2 separate regions of the Homo sapiens genome follow, and region 1 is linked to region 2. The links come from fine-mapping of genetic effects on gene expression. A gene starts in region 2. The other region holds a variant in brackets. All regions are shown on one strand. Distances are from middle to middle.

Region 1 (8,323 bases), 44 kb after region 2:
CACCTGGAGGGTGGTGAAGGCAGGGAGAACCAGCCAGTGCAAGGGCCCCTCATGTCCTGCCTGGCCTTTGCTTTTCCTACCTCTGGTAACTGACTGTGCTGCCAAAGTAACACTCCGTGCTCTCTCACCTGGGCATAGGAATGCCCTCTGGCTTGGGGAGCCAAGAAAGAAGCACAAGTATTCATACCTGACCTTAGGACAGGTTGTAACACAGCTATCTTTTCTGCAAAATCAACAAGTGGGGGACCAGGCATGGTGGCTCACACCTGTAGTCCCAGCACTTTGGGAGGCCAAGGTGGATGGGTCACCTGAGGTCAGGAGTTTGAGACCAGCCTGGCCAACAAGGCAAAATCCCATCTCTACTAAAAATATAAAAATTAGCCAGGCCTGGTGGCGTGCACCTGTAATCCTAGCTACTCGGGAGGCTGAGACAGGAGAATCGCTTGAAGCTGGGGGGCGGAGGTTGCAGTGACCCGAGATTGTGCCACTGCACTCCAGCCTGGGTGACAGAGCGAGGCTCCATCTGAAAAAAAAAAAAAAAGGGCAGGGGGAAGTGTTCATCAGAAACATCATGTGGCCTTATTCCTGGTTGCTATTTCATGACCAGACATAGCTAGAAGTCATACAGCTCTTGTTTCCCTATTTTACAAATGCATCAAAAAAAATCAACAGAATATGAATATCAGTTTATTGACAGAAATCAAGAATTTGGTGGCTTCTGACTCTTCACGATTCTGAAATAATATCTGTGATAACTCTCATTGGGCATCTGCTGTCACCAAGTATTCGGTGCTAAGCACATTATGTATAAGTATACAAAATTTCATGTAATGCTTACGTCAGCCTCATAAAGTAGAGTCTATGATTCCCATACAGGTGAGAAAATTAAGGTTCAGAGCAGTCAAGTAGACTAAAGCTACTTGGCAGGTCATTGCAGAACCAGGGCTCAGAGTCGCTGAAGTTCTGAAGCATTGTGCTGCTCTGCCCCGATTCAAGTTCAATTCCAGCTAAAAAGCCCAATAATCACTGGGAAGTTTCAGTCATTGAATACAAAATCACCAAAAGATTTGACTATATAGGTTTTCTTTTTCCTTTTTTTCTAAGTTACTTGGATTTTGAAATAGCTATAGGATTCTGAGTAGATATTTTGCTGTCAAAACAACACATCCATAAAGCATTTTAAACTTCTCTTATACGCTCTAGAAATTAGGTATTTTGTTCAATTTCAATAAGACACACCCTGGCCAGGTGCAACGGCTCATGCCTGTAATCCCAACACTTTGGGAGGTCAAGCCAGGCAGATCATGAGGTCAGGAGTTTAAGACTAGCCTGGCCAACATGGTGAAACTCCTGTCTCTACTAAAGATACAAAAAATTAGCCTGGCATGGTAGCACGCACCTGTAATCCCTGCTACTCGGGAGGCTGAGGCAGGGGAATCACTTGAACCCAGGAAGCAGAGGTTGCAGTAAGCGAAGATCGCACCATTGCACTCCAGCTTGGGCAACAAGAGCAAAACTCCGTCTACAAAAAAAAAAAAAAAAAAAGGCCCTAAGCAACTCCACCCTGCCTCTAAGTGGGCCCCCTTGGAAGGCATGGAACCAGAGCACCATTTAGTCAATAATTGCTGCTATGTGCTAATGGTGCCCTGGTGGCCTCCAGAATTGACTGCAGCTTCCAAAAGTGCCCAGCATGCAACCGGAAAGTGCTGTGGATCTTTGCAGAACCCAGCTCGATGGAAATCACTGAAAACAATTGCCTTTAGTGGCACTGTTATGTAACTACTGAGCATTCCCTGAATTCAGCTTTGCACATCTCACGTAGCAGGTATGTGACGAGTGTGAAGGTATGTGGGGAATGGGTGTGTTCTTTTTTCTGCGCTATCTGCTTCCCCAGTGGAAGGAGGCCATGGTGAGGATGAGGTACACTTACCTTTAGTTAAACAAGTTCTTTTCGGAAGGAGTACCTAAGGTCATAGCTGTGCTCCTGGGAAGGGGAGGCCAGGAGGCATCTAAAATGAGGTCTTACTGATGAAGACCCCCAGGTACTTGACAAAGAGTGTTTCCAACAAAAACAACTCTCAATACCATTTTCAAGCCGAACTTGCACACTTCTATTTGTTTGGATGTGGAGAGAGAAAAGAAGAAATCCACGTGGTGGGTAAAGCACCTGGGTCCACAGCCGAAAAATCCCGGGTTTAGTCTGTTTCACTATACAAAATTGGGCCATTTACCTGAGTTCCAGGCTCCACATATAAAACACAGACATAATATTACTCACCCATGTCACTGGGCTGCTGGGGGACTCTACTAGGACAACAGAGGCAAAGCTCTGATATAAGCTCTTTGCAAATGTAAGAAGTGGTCCTTATGTCACCCAGTTTAGGGCAGTGGTTGAGAGCAGACACATTCTGATCCCTCGAATCTGAATCCTATCTTTGGCCCATCTGGAAGTGGGACAAGTTTCTTAAACCTTTGTGCCTGGGTTTCCTATCTGGGGAAGAATAAATTAACAGATGCAAGGACCCTGAACAGTCCGGTTGGAGACTGCTCCAGTCCTTGGCACCGTCCTGCATTCTGTGGGTCCCAACAGTGTGGTGAAACCAGGAAGCCGACCAGCCATCCAACCAGGGTGTGGTCCTCTGGCTGAGACTCTCTATCCCACGTCTGGGCACCCATGCTACCAGCTGGCCTTGAATTCCAGGGATGCGGGAGGACAATGAGCATGAACGAAACGTGCCGAGTGGAGTTGAGAACGTAAAGGAAGAAGGGGGCGATGAGGACCTCTCCTGGGGAGATGAGGGCTGCCAAGTCCTAAGACACAGGCTCAGGGTCTGCAGGAAGGTCGGCTTGTTGGATCGTCTCTGTGCGCTGACTTCTCTTTGCTCCCCAGGGCCTCTACCCGCTGCCCTTGCTCAACAGCACCCTGGACGACGGGAAGGCCACCCTGACCCCTTCCAACACGCCACTGGGGCGCAACCTCTCGACTCACCAGACCTACCCCGTGGTGGCAGGTACAACGCCCGGAGCCTCCCTGGCAGGTGGAGGGCGGGGGACTGAAGAGCTTGGCTGGCTGTCAGGCGGAAGGTGTGGGGCCCTGGCCTGGAGAGGAGAGGCGGGCTGTGCCGGCCGGGCCGCCAGGTGGGCCCAGGGGTCGCGCCTCCGGTCCTAGGCCGGGCCTCAAGGTGGGCCGAGGGGTCGCGCCTCCAGTCCTAGGCCGGGCCTCAAGGTGGGCCCAGGGGTCGCGCCTCCGGTCCTAGGCCGGGCCTCAAGGTGGGCCGAGGGGTCGCGCCTCCAGTCCTAGGCCGGGCCTCAAGGTGGGCCGAGGGGTCGCGCCTCCGGTCCTAGGCCGGGCCTCAAGCTGGGCCGAGGGGTCGCGCCTCCGGCCCTAGGCGGCTCCCGTAAGGTGGGCCGAGGGGTCGCGCCTCCAGTCCTAGGCCGGGCCTCAAGGTGGGCCCAGGGGTCGCGCCTCCGGTCCTAGGCCGGGCCTCAAGGTGGGCCGAGGGGTCGCGCCTCCGGTCCTAGGCGGCTCCCGCAAGGTGGGCCGAGGGGTCGCGCCTCCGGTCCTAGGCCGGGCCTCAAGCTGGGCCGAGGGGTCGCGCCTCCGGTCCTAGGCGGCTCCCGCAAGGTGGGCCGAGGGGTCGCGCCTCCAGTCCTAGGCCGGGCCTCAAGGTGGGCCCAGGGGTCGCGCCTCCGGTCCTAGGCCGGGCCTCAAGGTGGGCCGAGGGGTCGCGCCTCCGGTCCTAGGCCGCTCCCGGGTCTCCGCGCTCCCTCCTGTGGGAGAGGCGGGCGCACACACGCCTTCCGGGTCTCTCCATTTTCGCTGCAGAAGCGCAGCAGGGAGGTCTAGCTTCTCTCTCCCCGCCTTGCCACGCCTCGTGGGCCCCGGCTCTCCCCAGCCCAGACTCTGAGGGCAGCTGAGCCTGCCCCGCGCCCCGCCCGCACCCTCCACATCCCACGGCTTGGCTTGTGCGTGTTCCCTCCCCGCCATCTCACACCCCTCTCTCCTTGTTGTCTCCCTCCCTCCGGCAGATCCTCACTCACCCTTCGCCATAAAGCAGGAAACCCCCGAGGTGTCCAGTTCTAGCTCCACCCCTTCCTCTTTATCTAGCTCCGCCTTTTTGGATCTGCAGCAAGTCGGCTCCGGGGTCCCGCCCTTCAATGCCTTTCCCCATGCTGCCTCCGTGTACGGGCAGTTCACGGGCCAGGCCCTCCTCTCAGGTACGACAGGGAGGTCCCGGGGCCATGCAGCTATGGCGGCGGGTGGGACGGGGGTCCTCAGGGCAGACCGCCAGCCCCCTCTCTGGCCTCAGTCTCATCCACCCCCACCCTGTTCCCTAATTCCTCCGGCAACTTTTGGAGGCGCCAACATGAAGTTCTCTGTGACGG[GGA/A]AGACATGCTCGGAAGGGGCGGATGCTGTAGGGGTGCCGGGGATGCACCACCCCAAGACCCCATGGAAAAGCAGGAACCCTAAGGCCGGGAGCCGGGTGCTGTAACGTAGCAACTTGGCCTTGGTAAATGCATAAATAGATAGAAGGAAAAATGAACATTTTGGAGGGAAAAAGGAATTGGCTTTTGGAGCCCATTTCTGGATCAAATTTCTAAAAAGGCCAAGGGTCAGTCCCAGTTGTGTTTCCATGATGCAGCTATCTTCATTCCTAGCTTAACAGCATCACCGGGAGGACAGTCAGACATCTGTTAAACATGATAAATTCAGTGATTCAACAACTTGAGAGGAGTGGGGGACCTCCCATCAGGAACCTCAACTGCCTCAAAATATTTAAAGCTGGAAGCACCGACCGGGCGAGGTGGCTCACCCCTGTAATTCCAGCAGTTTGGGAGGCCGAGGCAGGTGGATCACAAGGTCAAGAGTTCAAGACCAGCCTGGCCAAGATGATGAAACCCCATCTCTACTAAAATTCAAAAAATTAGGGGGTGTGGTGGCAGACACCTGTAATCCCAGCTACTGGGGAGGCCGAGGCAGGAGAATCGCTTGAACCCAGGAGGCATAGGTTGCAGTGAGCTGAGGTGGCGCCATGGCACTCCAGCCTGGGTGACAGAGCAAGACTCCATCTCAAAAAAGAAAAAAACAAATAAATAAAAATAAGTAAATCTGGAAGCACCTGAGGGAGCCTCTAGATCAAACCTCTTATGCTGATGAGGAACCTGGCCCAGGGAGGAGAAGGTCCCTGCCAAGGTCTCTGGGCAGGAGCACCATCTGTAGCTGGTTGAGGCCTGGGCCTGCACTGCATGAGTCAGACCTCAAGGGGAGCTGGCTCCTCCTGGCAGAAGGACCTTCGCTCATCCAGCCAGGGCCTGAGGAATGGCTGAGAGTCAAGCGCTTGGCTTGGGTTGGAGAGGGCCTGAGATGCAGTGAAAGTGGGAAGCAGAGACCCATATGGTCTTCAGATACCTCAAGGGCTTCCACAGGGATAGGACTATTTTAGATGTGGGCCCAGTGGGGGCCCAGGACCAGGGAAGGAAGCCAGCTAGCTCTCAGTTCAGCATTGGAGGAATCTCTTTAATAGCGGCACTGTCTCCAAGGAGTGTGGGTATTTAGTGACAGAAGTAAATGCCTCTTCACCTCCCACACCCTCCTACCCCGACGACCTTGAAATGCTGGAGCAGAGACCAGTGCGTGGGTGGGGTGTGTGAGACCTGTCACAGAGGCAGCCCAGAGTCAGACAGTCCATCTGGACCAGTGGTTTCAAATTTGGGCCTCTCAATGCTCTCTTGAAATGAAGCCTTTTACAGAAGACATGTATGCTCACCAGACCCCTGAAGAACTGCTCTTTTAGAAGGGGTCCCTGCCCCTAGAAAGCCCTTGGACTTCGAAACCACTGCACCAGAGGATTAAGACCTCTACAAGCCCAGAGTAACCACAGGGTCATGTGATAAAAGTCCCTGGACCCTTTTTTTTTTGTTTTTTTGTTTTTTGAGATGGAATCTCACTCTGTTGCCCAGGTTGGAGTGCAGTGGCGCGATCTCAGCTCACTGCAACCTCCACCTCCTGGGTTCAAGTGATTCTCCTGCCTCAGCCTCCCGAGTAGCTAGAACTACAAATGGGCGCCACTACACCCGGCTAATTTTTGTATTTTCAGTAGAGATGGGGTTTCACCATGTTAGCCAGAATGGTCTCAATCTCCTGACCTTGGTCCGCCCACCTTGGCCTCCCAAAGTGCTGGGGTTACAGGTGTGAGCCACTGCACCCAGCCCATGGACCCTTTTTTATAACTGGCTCTACATTTTCTTTCTGGCTGGCACCCGGGTTTTTTTTTTTTTTTCCTCCGTACATCCCAGCACCTAATGTGAGAAGTTTCCTTAGAAGAGAGGGACATCCAGTGTGTGGGCAGAGAGATGGTGTTTAAGGGTCTAAAGCGAGGAGTTGACTTGGAGTTCAAGAATTCAAGAGGGTGAAGGCAGCAGAGATGGGTCATTTGTTTTGACCAAAGTGATGAAAAGAGCAAAACCTGTGAGCTGAGTAAAATTATGTCAGCCAGAGAAAATGGGATGCGGGGTAGGGAGGGGAATGAGAGGATAGTGGAGAGGAAGGGAGGGGAAGGGAAGGGAGGGGAGGGGAGGGGAGGGGAGGGGGTGAGGAGAAGAGGTTCATGTCAGTTACAGGGAGTTACGCAAGCCTGCATGTCTTCTGAGAATGGCAGGCTAGAGCTGGCGGCGGTCATGGGGCAGGCAAGGGGTGAGGGTGTGGTGGTGCCCATGATGATGGGGAGCAGGTGCTGTGGAAGCCGCGGAGAAGCTTGGCAAGACCAGCTGAAGGAGAGGGAAGGATGTAGGGCAGCTGGAAGTGGATAGATGTATCAGAGTGCAGACATAGGCTGTAGTGTAAAGTGCAACTGGAACAGCCCAGGGCAAACTCCCTACTCCCAAAGCCCCTACACTTTGTCCCCTCCCTGTCATCCTGTTAGCATCCCCTGTCAACATGCAGTCAATCAGAGGTGACGCCTCCAACTACTGTCAGCTGTTAATTTAGTGGACATGCCCACTCTCCAGGCCAACTGCAGGACTGAGAGGTCACCCAACCCATGGGACAAAACAGCTGGCAGCAGACACCAGGTAGTCATGTAGGAAGCAGGCAGCCAAATATGCAGCACCGGCATATCTTTCAGGCTGGTGGCCCCCAATCCAGGCCCAGATGATGCTGAAGTGCAGGTGTGAGCACTTTGAAGGTTGCTGGCTGGTCACAGGGCCCCCTAGCCCAAGGGTTGACAATTCAGCACAGAGGCAGAGGCTCTGAAAAGAGTGAGGAGTGCTAGCCTTGGAGGATCTGGGGTCCAGGCAAATGGCCAAGAGTAGGAAGCAAGTCAGAAAGCAGCTCAGGCACAAGGGAGGGGATGGCTGGTGTCCATGCTGAGCTCAGGGTGTTGGCCTGGAGCTCCTTACAGACTGTCCACCTGAGGCCTCTGGTCAAGACTGGATCTCAATACCTAACACGTGGCTGAGCCATGGTGAGAGAGCTGGGAGGACATGACGGGGGGCGGTGGGGAAGGTTAGGAAGGGAATGGTTCCAGGAGCGCAGGAGGCTGCAGACCTTCCCAAGAAGAGGTGAATTTGAAAGAAAGAGAAGGAACCTGGGCCCAATGGCTCACACCTGTAATCCCAGCACTTTGGGAGGCCAAGGTGGGTGGATCACCTGAGGTCGGGAGTTCGAGACCAGCCTGACCAACATGGAGAAACCCCATCTCTACTAAAAATACAAAATTAGCCAGGCGTGGTGGCACATGCCTGTAATCCCAGCTACTCGGGAGGCTGAGGCAGGAGAATTGCTTAAACCCAGGAGGCGGAGGTTGCGGTGAGCCGAGATCGTGCCATTGCACTCCAGCCTGGGCAACAAGAGCGAAACTCCATCTCAAAAAAGAAAAAAATAATAAAGAAAGAGAAGGAAGTTGAGGCCACATTATTCCTAAGTAATGCTGCAGACCAGGAGAGAGGAGAGAGGACACAGTGAGTTTTCATTCCATAATCAGCTCAGCTTTAACCCGCGTGAATCTTCCACATGCCTCTGAGTGACTCCCAAGGACCCTCGCTGCCGCCTCCTGCAACTCCTTCACTACTTCATAGCGTTTTTCTCTGGGTCACTTATTTCCGCCTGGTGGCTCTGATAGTGTGATTTCCAAGGTGACTATCCTTCTGAGTCTCAGCTCATCCCCAGTCAGCCAAGAAAGAAGAAACAGCAAGGTTTGGGGAATAGCAAGAGTGCCCCTAACATTGCTGCCAGTTCCCTTTGGAAGCCCCAGTCTGGAGTCCCAACACACTGGCCAAGACAGCAATGTCGAGGCCGTCCTGGTCCCAGCTGCTCTGGGACTGC
Region 2 (8,323 bases):
GATGGGTTGCCAAAAGGGTCTAGCTCATTTTTTCTAACTTAAAAAAAAAAAAAAAAAAAACTATGATTACTAGAGAAAAAAATTGAGCTGTGTACGTCAATCCTTTTATCTCCCTCTGTCACCTTCCTTTTTGTGTCCCCAGGAAGTTTTTTTTCCACCCATTTGTAAGTACCAGGGTCTCCTTCCAGAAGCCCAGGCAACTGCTGCCAAAGGCTGTGGGGTGGGCAAAGAGCCCAAGGGACAAGTGCCCAGGACACATCCCTACCCAAACCAACTGGACAAATGCCACCAGTGGTTTCTTCCAAACTGCCCTCGGCAGCCCAACCAGTGGCTCTTTTCCTTTCACCTGCCAGGACCTATATTTCTATTTCTGAGTTTTCAAAGCCTAGGGAGGTGGAGAACCTGGAATAATTAATGATTGATTTTCAGGCACTGCCACCAGGAGGCCCCAGGGCAGGCTGTCGGCCATTTCCTGAGTGCAGGGACAGGGTTGAAATCCCACGTGGCTTCGGCAGGATTGGGCAAGTCTGTGAGGGGAGAGGGTGGAGCGAAAACTGCCAGTGCCCTGAACACTTCTGCCCTCTGCAAAATGATGAAGTCGCTGCTGGAAGTTCTGCTGGGGTGCTGGCCTTCTGCCATTGACTCTCCCCTCTCTCTGGGTCAACGAATGTTAATTGCTGCCCTCACAGACACCCCTGCCCCACTGCTACCCTTGCACCCACGCCTGCACCCACAGGCACGGGCTCACTGGCCCTTTCCTCTCCAAGGCTCCTTTGGGAAAGGATTAAAGGAACCGACTTCCACAGCAAAACTTTAGGGACATTTTAACTTTGCCCTCTTTGGATGTATTCCTCTGCCTTTGTTGTCTAATAATAATTAACTTTTGTACAGAGGTGTAGTTTTCAAAGGGCCTTCACATTCATAATTTTATTCGTCCTCACAACAAAGCTACGAGGTGGGTCTGACCCTCCCCAGCCCCCCGTCTATATCCACATCATGCAGAAGGGGAAACTGAGGTTCGGGCAGAAGAAATCATCCCATTCTACACAATTAGGGCTGGAACACTCACCTCTGATGCAAAGTAGAGAGCTGCTGTTTTCTTCCTGAAGGGATGTACTTTAGTCCCAACAATGGTTCGTTACGTAGGGGAAGTGGCATGGTGGCAAGTAAGCCAGGAGGATTGTTGGGAGCAGTGGTCTTCCCTCGAGGCTGGTCTCTGGGCATTGTGCCCAGAGAAACCAGGGTACATAGGAGTAAGAGGAAGAGCTCATGGACCTACTGGAGTTCAAGGGTCTCAGTCACCTGAGCCAGCAGGTAGAATGACCCAAGTGTGCAAACAATCACCCACCCAATAGTCAGTTGAAACACGGCAGCTTATAAAAGACCCCCAAACCATCCCACTCCCACACTCTAATCAGCTAGGATGACCAATTCATCCTGATTTGCCCGGGAAAGTCCCAGTTTTAACTCGCATCTAGAAAACACTGTTGGTTTTCGTCCAGGGCAAACCAGGGCACTTTATTACCCTACCACCAGCCCAGTGCATTACAGCTGAGTCCAGAAAAGAAAGAACATCTTTTGAAGGCTCAGCAGATCAGCATAGAATTAAACAAATTGTGGGATATTATGCAAATTCAAAAACCACTGTAGTTAGGCAATTACCTAGGATTGTTGGAATGTTAAACCTGAAAGAATGTTCATTTCCACAAAGAAACGCTCAGATCTGCGGCCAGATCTCTTGCATTTTCAAAGGCAAGGCAGAGTTAGTCTCTCGTCTCTACTTCTGTATTTTGATATTGGCAATGAATTACATTTTCTCAAAAAAACACTGAGTTTAAAAAAATTATAACTAGTTGCCAGTTGATAATATTGCCACAAAAGCCTTATGGGCCTCAAGCCTGAGAAGAAAAGTTGGCAAATGAGGTATTCATTTTAAAAAGTGAGTTCTAAGGCCTGGCCAGGCACAGTGGCTCATGCCTGTGATCCCAGCACTTTGGGAGGCTGAGGCAGGCGGATCACTTGAGGTCTGGAGTTCGAGACCAGCCTGGCCAATGTGGTGAAACCCCGTCTCTACCAAAATATAAAAAATTAGTCAGGCATGATGATGCATACCTGTAGCCCCAGCTAGTCGGGAGGCTGAGGCAGGAGAATCACTTGAACCCAGGAGGTGGAGGTTGTAGTGAGCCGAGATCATGCCACCGCACTCCAGCCTGGGTGACAGAGTGAGACTAAGTCTAGAAGAAAAAAAAAAGAGTTCTAAAAGTCCCATTGAAAGTCTATTAGTCACAGTGCAAATTTATTTTAAAATTTCAAATATCATCATAGGAAGGCATATGATTTTTATTCTTAACTAAAAGCATCATGGATTTTAAGTTTGAAAAAATACTGTGATAATAGGTGATTTTAAAAATATATGTATTTCAAACCTTTCGTTTTGCAGAGGAGGAGACTGATGCCAAAGAGACAGAGTTAAAGCACCAGTTAATGACATTTCCTTGGCCTTGGTCTCAGAGAATTAGGAAGTACCAAGGAACCCAGGCCTGATTTCTGATTCTAATTAGAAGCAGGGTCAGTCCAGGAGGCCTGTGTTTATCTCTGCAGCAGAAGTTCACTGCATTCTCACTTCTTGCTCGTCCTAGATCTTCTCTGCTGAGTCTTCTGGTCACCTGCTATGTCACCTGCAGTCTGGAGAAGAGGTACTGTCAAGGTGTGGGGTGTGTTTTTCCCTGAGGAGTAACCTTGAACAGTGCACATTGTTTTTACCTTGAAATGAAATTTTAAAGATAAATTTATACATGGGACAGGAATGTTCTGATAACTTGCTGGATTTGTCCTCTAAGAAATTTTGCCCAAAAAGGGGATAGGAAAGGGAGAGGGTTCATTGCTTGGGCAGAAAAGATGTGCACAGGCAAGAATGATTGCATGAGAGTCAATGGTTATTGGTACGTATCAGAACCTTAGATTGGGTAGAATCTCTAAGGTTGTCAGAGCTGTTTGAAATGAGGGCGTATTAGATTCACCCTGGAGCATTGCCTCCCTGGTGGGAGGGAATCCTGGGTGGACAAAGAGAGTTTCTGCTGTGGCTGCCACACTCCACACCTCCCCTGCAGCAGGACACAATCCAGGGCAGCAAACTGGCCCATGGGGTCCGGAGGACCTATGCCAAGATCCATTTCCATCCCAACACCCTTGGATTGTCTCTCTCTGGGAGGGACTGCCAGAGAAGTTAGGGATCTGGAGCTTTGAAAACCACAGAGATATTTAAAATTACAATTTTAGAGAAAGATTTAAAATGATGAAGCACCAACTATTTTTGTTTACAGCCCCTCTTTGCAAATGTGGAGGAAACATGTAGGGATACACATCTTCTTCTCTCTTTTTTCACAAGATGATTCATTTCTCCTAAATTGAGAAATGAGAAAGACTGGGTGGAAGGAGGTTGTGGATTGACATGAAAGAGAAAACTTTTTTAATTCAGAAAAATAGTTCATGTGTTTTCACACACGTGTACATATGTGCATACACACACACACACACACACACACACACACATCCAATCCCCCTGAATATCCCAGTTTCCCCTGCACCTTCCTTGCCCCCCTCCCACTGGCTTCTTAGCCTCCTGTCCCAGAACAACCCCACCAGGCCTGCAGAGCCATCACTGAAAAGGGCATGGCTGTCCTCTAGACTGTAATCCTGAGTCCAGAGGTCTGGCCAAAGATTGGAGGAGCATCCAGGCCTTGACCCCCAGGCCTGCCAGTGTTCCAGGACATTTGCTCACTCATACCCACTCACAATCTTACGTGTACCCCGGTTCCCCGACTGAGAGAACTATGAGGAAGGAGGGGGCAGCTTTTGCCATCACTAAGGTAAAGAGGTGCCAGGCAGCTCTGCTCGGTCCCAGGGCTCACCAACCCTGCCATCATTCCCACCAGTGGACCCCTTCTTAACCACACCCAGGCCCCCATATTGCTGAGGCTATTGATTCCTACAGACCAGGCCAGAGGTCAGCTCAGTCCTGTTCCTTTCTAAGGCCTTTCCACACAGAGATGAAGTCTAGGCCCTCAATGCCCTTCCCCTGAACTCTTCTTCCAAGTTCAAAATCCTCAAGGAGCAAGAAAGAGGGCAGGTGGCTGCGTGTGTGTTCCAGAGGAGAGAGGCGAGGAGTTGCTGTGGAATGGGTTATGTGACAATTTTGTTAGCCTGACAATGCAAGGGTGTGAACGCTATCTGTGTAGAACAGAGGGAATGGCTTCAGGTGCTGCTCAGGATTCTTCCCTGGAAGAGGTCATAGCTGTGGTGAGAAGGTAATAGCATCTTGCCTACAGCCCCGAAAGCAGGCTCTACCTAAAGAATCAGGCATAAAACAGAAGTTCCCTCCTTCCTTTTACAAAAGAAAAGGCTGCTTCCTGGTGAGCAAACCAGGGGAGACAGGGGGCAAGGAGGGCATCCTACAGAGACCATCCCTCTCACTTCTGGTGGTCAGTGACCCAGGAGGACCCAGAGAACCTCATCCTCAGGCTCCTAGGCCTCTGTTCCCCACTCCTCCAATATTTCCAGGCCTGCTGAGTTAGGGCTCAGCTGCCTCCCTCTTCCCTCCGCTGGAAACAGAAGCTCCCAGCGAATGTTTCTAACTCCTGAGTCCACTCAGCCATGTCCCCCTTGCAAAATCCTCCCCTTCCCGCACCCCCCTGCACCCAGCCAGCCAATCCGCGGCCTACGAGCCTCGCCAGACCCATCTCCCAGGGCCTCAGCGGGATAAAACCGGTCGGTGATGCCGGGTGGATGGGAACAAACTTCAGAAGGAGGAGAGACACCGGGCCCAGGGCACCCTCGCGGGCGGACCCAAGCAGTGAGGGCCTGCAGCCGGCCGGCCAGGTATGTCACCCAGGGGTTAGCTGGAAGCTGGCTAGCAGTGAGGACGGGGGATGGAAGAAAGGAGAGGGTCCCAGGATGCCTGGCAGCCTTTTCCCTCCCAAGTTAAACGGGATAAGACTGGGACAGCGGAGGGAGTGGGCACGGAGGTTGGAGTCTGGAGCTTCTTCAGCGCACTCCCAATCCTTGATCCTCCCGGGAAGCCTGTTAGCTAGGCTAGGCTGAGGTTGGCCCTACTTCGCCTAAAAATCCTCCTACTCCTGGCAGACGATGCAGGTGTAAAGGATGAGGCCTGGGGAGGGGGCCTGAGGATGCAGGCATCGAATCTCATCGCATCTCATGCCCTTCTCCTGGGTTTGTGCAGGGCAGCGGCAGGCGCGGCCCGGACCTACGGGAGGAAGCCCCGAGCCCTCGGCGGGCTGCGAGCGACTCCCCGGCGATGCCTCACAACTCCATCAGATCTGGTAAGAACGCGGTGTGGTCAGGATCCCCGAGCCCCCGCGCCGCTGAGCGTCCGTGCGTGCGCTCGGGTGGTTGGATCTCGAGAGCGTCAGCACGGGATTCGCGGGACCCACCCGCGTGGGGACCCAGCTGGGGCGCCTGGGGCCTGGCCCTCCGCTGGAGCCGCCTCGCTGTTCTCGGGCACTGGGGTTCCACCCGGCCAGCTGAGCCGCCCTTGCCCGGTTTCGAGGGACCACATGGATCGGTGAGGGGATCTCTGTGGAGTTAGAGGGGGTTTCCTTTGAGCTCCATTCCCAGCCTTGCATGGCGCATTAGTGTGGACATTCTTCGTGCTCTGTCCCTGGGCTGCACCGGTGCTGGACTTGCCGTTTCCCCGTCCCCGACCTCTAAGTCCTCTTCCTCGGGTGCGCGCAGTCCTTCCCAGTGACTCCCCTGGCTGGACTGTGAGCTCCCCGCATCTCTCAAGCCAACGGCAATGGAGCCGGTGGTCCCGGGCCCGGGAGCCGGCAGCGCACTCAGGTGCTCTCCGACTCCTCCTGGCCCAGCACCGGGCAGGCCGGGCGCCGCGCGCGGGGCGTCCGGCTGGTGAGGACTAAGCCGCTCGCGGAGTCAAAACCCCCTCCCCACCTGCGCCCGGAAGCAGGGCCTTCAAACACACTCGAGCTCCCAGGCCGCGATGCCTGTTTTCCCCCTTCCCGGCCAGGGCTGGGCAGGGTCTTTGCTGGGAAGGAGCTCCAGGGTCAGGGCTGGTGGGCGCAGCCGTCCCGGCGCGCAGCGAGTGCGGACAGCGGTGGAGGCGCAGCGCGGCCCGCAGTGATGGATGGAGCCCGGCCGGCCGCAGAGAAGGCGATTTATGGGGCCAGGGCGCATCGCTATCGATTTGGGCCGGCGAAGTGAGAGGAAATCAATATTTCAGAATGAATTCTCCGCGAATATGATGTCCCGCTCTGCAAACGGGACATTTGTTATAATAAGGAGGGTCGGATCGGGCGCGCAGCGAGGCTGAGATCTCTATTTAGCCAAGCGCACTGCGGGGGCCCGGGCTCTGCGGCGCAGTCTCCAGTCCCAGGGCCATGGCCCAACTAGGAGGGGAGCGGGAACCCCCTGGGGCGCCGGAAGATTTCTCACTCGGGTTCTCTCTAGAGCTGCAGACGAATGCTCCCTCCCGGCCCCCATTCCCCTCAGAGACCTGGGCCAGAATCGTCCGGCTGCCCCCAGAAGGCGCGGGGTCCCTTCAAGGTCCTCAGGGGAGAGACCTCGCAGCCATTCCCCGGCGCGGCGGGGTTGGGGAGCCCTGGGACCGAGCAGAGCTCCCTGGCACCTCTTTACGGTCCGCGTCCTGGAACCACGAGCGCTCCTAGGCCACTATCTAAGGTCAGGATCAGGTTTTAGTCCCTTAATCTTTAGCCAAACCGTGGTACGATACCAGACATCGCCAGGACCATCCCTGAGGCCTAATGTGCAGTGCCCGGTGCCCATGCCAAGCTGGTGCAATGGCACTTCTGCGCCAAGCTGGTGCAATGGCACTTCTGCTCGGCTCTGGAGGTCCATCTTTCCTCCTAACCTTCCCCTGACCCTTCCGGCGGTGGCAGGAGGAGTGAGTGCTCTCGGAAATCAAATTCACTGTGGCCGGGCTGGACCCTTACTCTCTGCCGCTGCCCAAGAAATGAGACGATGTCCCCGTCCCTCAGATGAGCTTTTTTTTTTTTTCGCGGCTACTTATTTTCATTCTAGAAGTACTCGTTAGAATAGATGGAAATAGAGTATGGAAAGAATAAATAAAGGCACAATTTATTTTTACTGTAGTTTTAATCAGGAACAGTCCCAGATGATGAGATGCGCGCTTTCCCACTAGCTTGGATGCAAATCGCGCTTGGGTTTTGGGAGGGAGCCCTCTGCCCCTGGACCTACCAGGTAATTTTTTTCCCCTTTCTTCTTTTCGGGAAGACAGAGGGGCTTCTTCTACCCTCTTTCCAAAACAAATAGACAAAGTGGCGAGGGAGGGAAGATGAGACTTTCTTCTCATAGTTTAATTTAAACGCTAATAAAACAAGAAAATGGCCTATAACCGCATAGACTGCTGAAGGCGCTCCCTGTTTCTTTTCTGAACCCTCCCTCGGCAAACCTGAGGGAGAGGCCGTCTGTCTTTCTGATCAGCTTACCTGACACTGTTGTCTATAACCGGAGCTAAACTCATAAGCGGACCCCTCTGGTTTTTACAAGCCCATTATCTCTCGGGTTTTAGCAGGTTCCCCCTTTTCCCCAGGCACCTCTGTTCCTGAGACCGGCCGTGCTTAGGGAGCTCCCCTTGAGTTTTCTGTGAGCAGAGCCCGGGACGCAGGCGGCCACACGGCTTTCCGCGGGAGCGAGGCCGAGCGCACCCTTCCCAATAACCGGGGACGCTCGAGAAAACCTCCCCGCGCGGCCTCCGCCGCCCAGCCTGCCACGGGGTCGCCTCGTCGTTGGCTGGTCTTGCCTTGCAGAGAGTCTTAACGTTGTCTTTCCTACAGCTTTATTCTGCAGGAATGTTGAACGCGAATCATTTTAACGTGCGCAGGTCAGCGATGGGCTGAACGTTCCTTAAAATCGCTATTTTTGTTGCATCAGGGACGAAATTCTCTAAAGCAAAAACATTTTTAAAAAAATTCAAAGATGCAGAAGAAACGATAAATGCCCCATATATATAAAAGTGAAAACAATACTGTACCAATGAGGAAGAGAGTTTTGTAAAAGCAAGCAGGCTGGCTGTCATTAAAAGTTATCTTAAATAACTTGTCGCAGCCCACTCCCACCAGTCCCGAAAATAGTTCATTCAAGTGGTAAAATAAGACAAGGCAGAGGACGATGTCTCTAACTTCCCTGATGTGAGATCTAAAGCCCCATTCCTAACTCTTGGTTTTAGAATTGAGGAAAGTGGAATAAATGCATTTGGAAAGGATCTGTTTTCTTCCCAGGTTTCCTGCCTGGGTTGAAAATAAGGTTTCAG

Which allele goes with the higher level. Positions count from the first base shown, and alleles are read on the strand shown. Sizes are in standard deviations (SD) of each study's normalised expression.
As copies of A replace GGA in region 1, the expression in esophagus muscle of the gene that starts at base 4,788 in region 2 goes down (large effect, 1.0 SD a copy in GTEx).

Evidence for each region. PIP is the estimated chance that this variant, and not a neighbour inherited with it, causes the effect.
Region 1: its variant is fine-mapped to the expression of PAX8 in esophagus muscle (GTEx, PIP 0.94). The same link has a PIP of 0.9 or more in testis.

What each region holds. Positions count from the first base shown.
Region 1 is chr2:113,231,289-113,239,611 of GRCh38, reverse strand. It overlaps PAX8 (paired box 8), which reads left to right. Exons shown (of 12, transcript NM_003466.4): 8 at 2,891-3,011; 9 at 4,030-4,218. PAX8-AS1 (PAX8 antisense RNA 1) reads right to left here and starts at 3,343. Exons shown (of 6, transcript NR_015377.2): 1 at 2,990-3,343. RefSeq lists a silencer at 3,927-4,006 and an enhancer at 4,257-4,446. The variant GGA/A (reference allele first, on the strand shown) is at 4,387.
Region 2 is chr2:113,275,386-113,283,708 of GRCh38, reverse strand. It overlaps PAX8 (paired box 8), which reads left to right and starts at 4,788. Exons shown (of 12, transcript NM_003466.4): 1 at 4,788-4,878; 2 at 5,240-5,339. The coding sequence starts at 5,315. RefSeq lists a promoter at 4,186-5,315.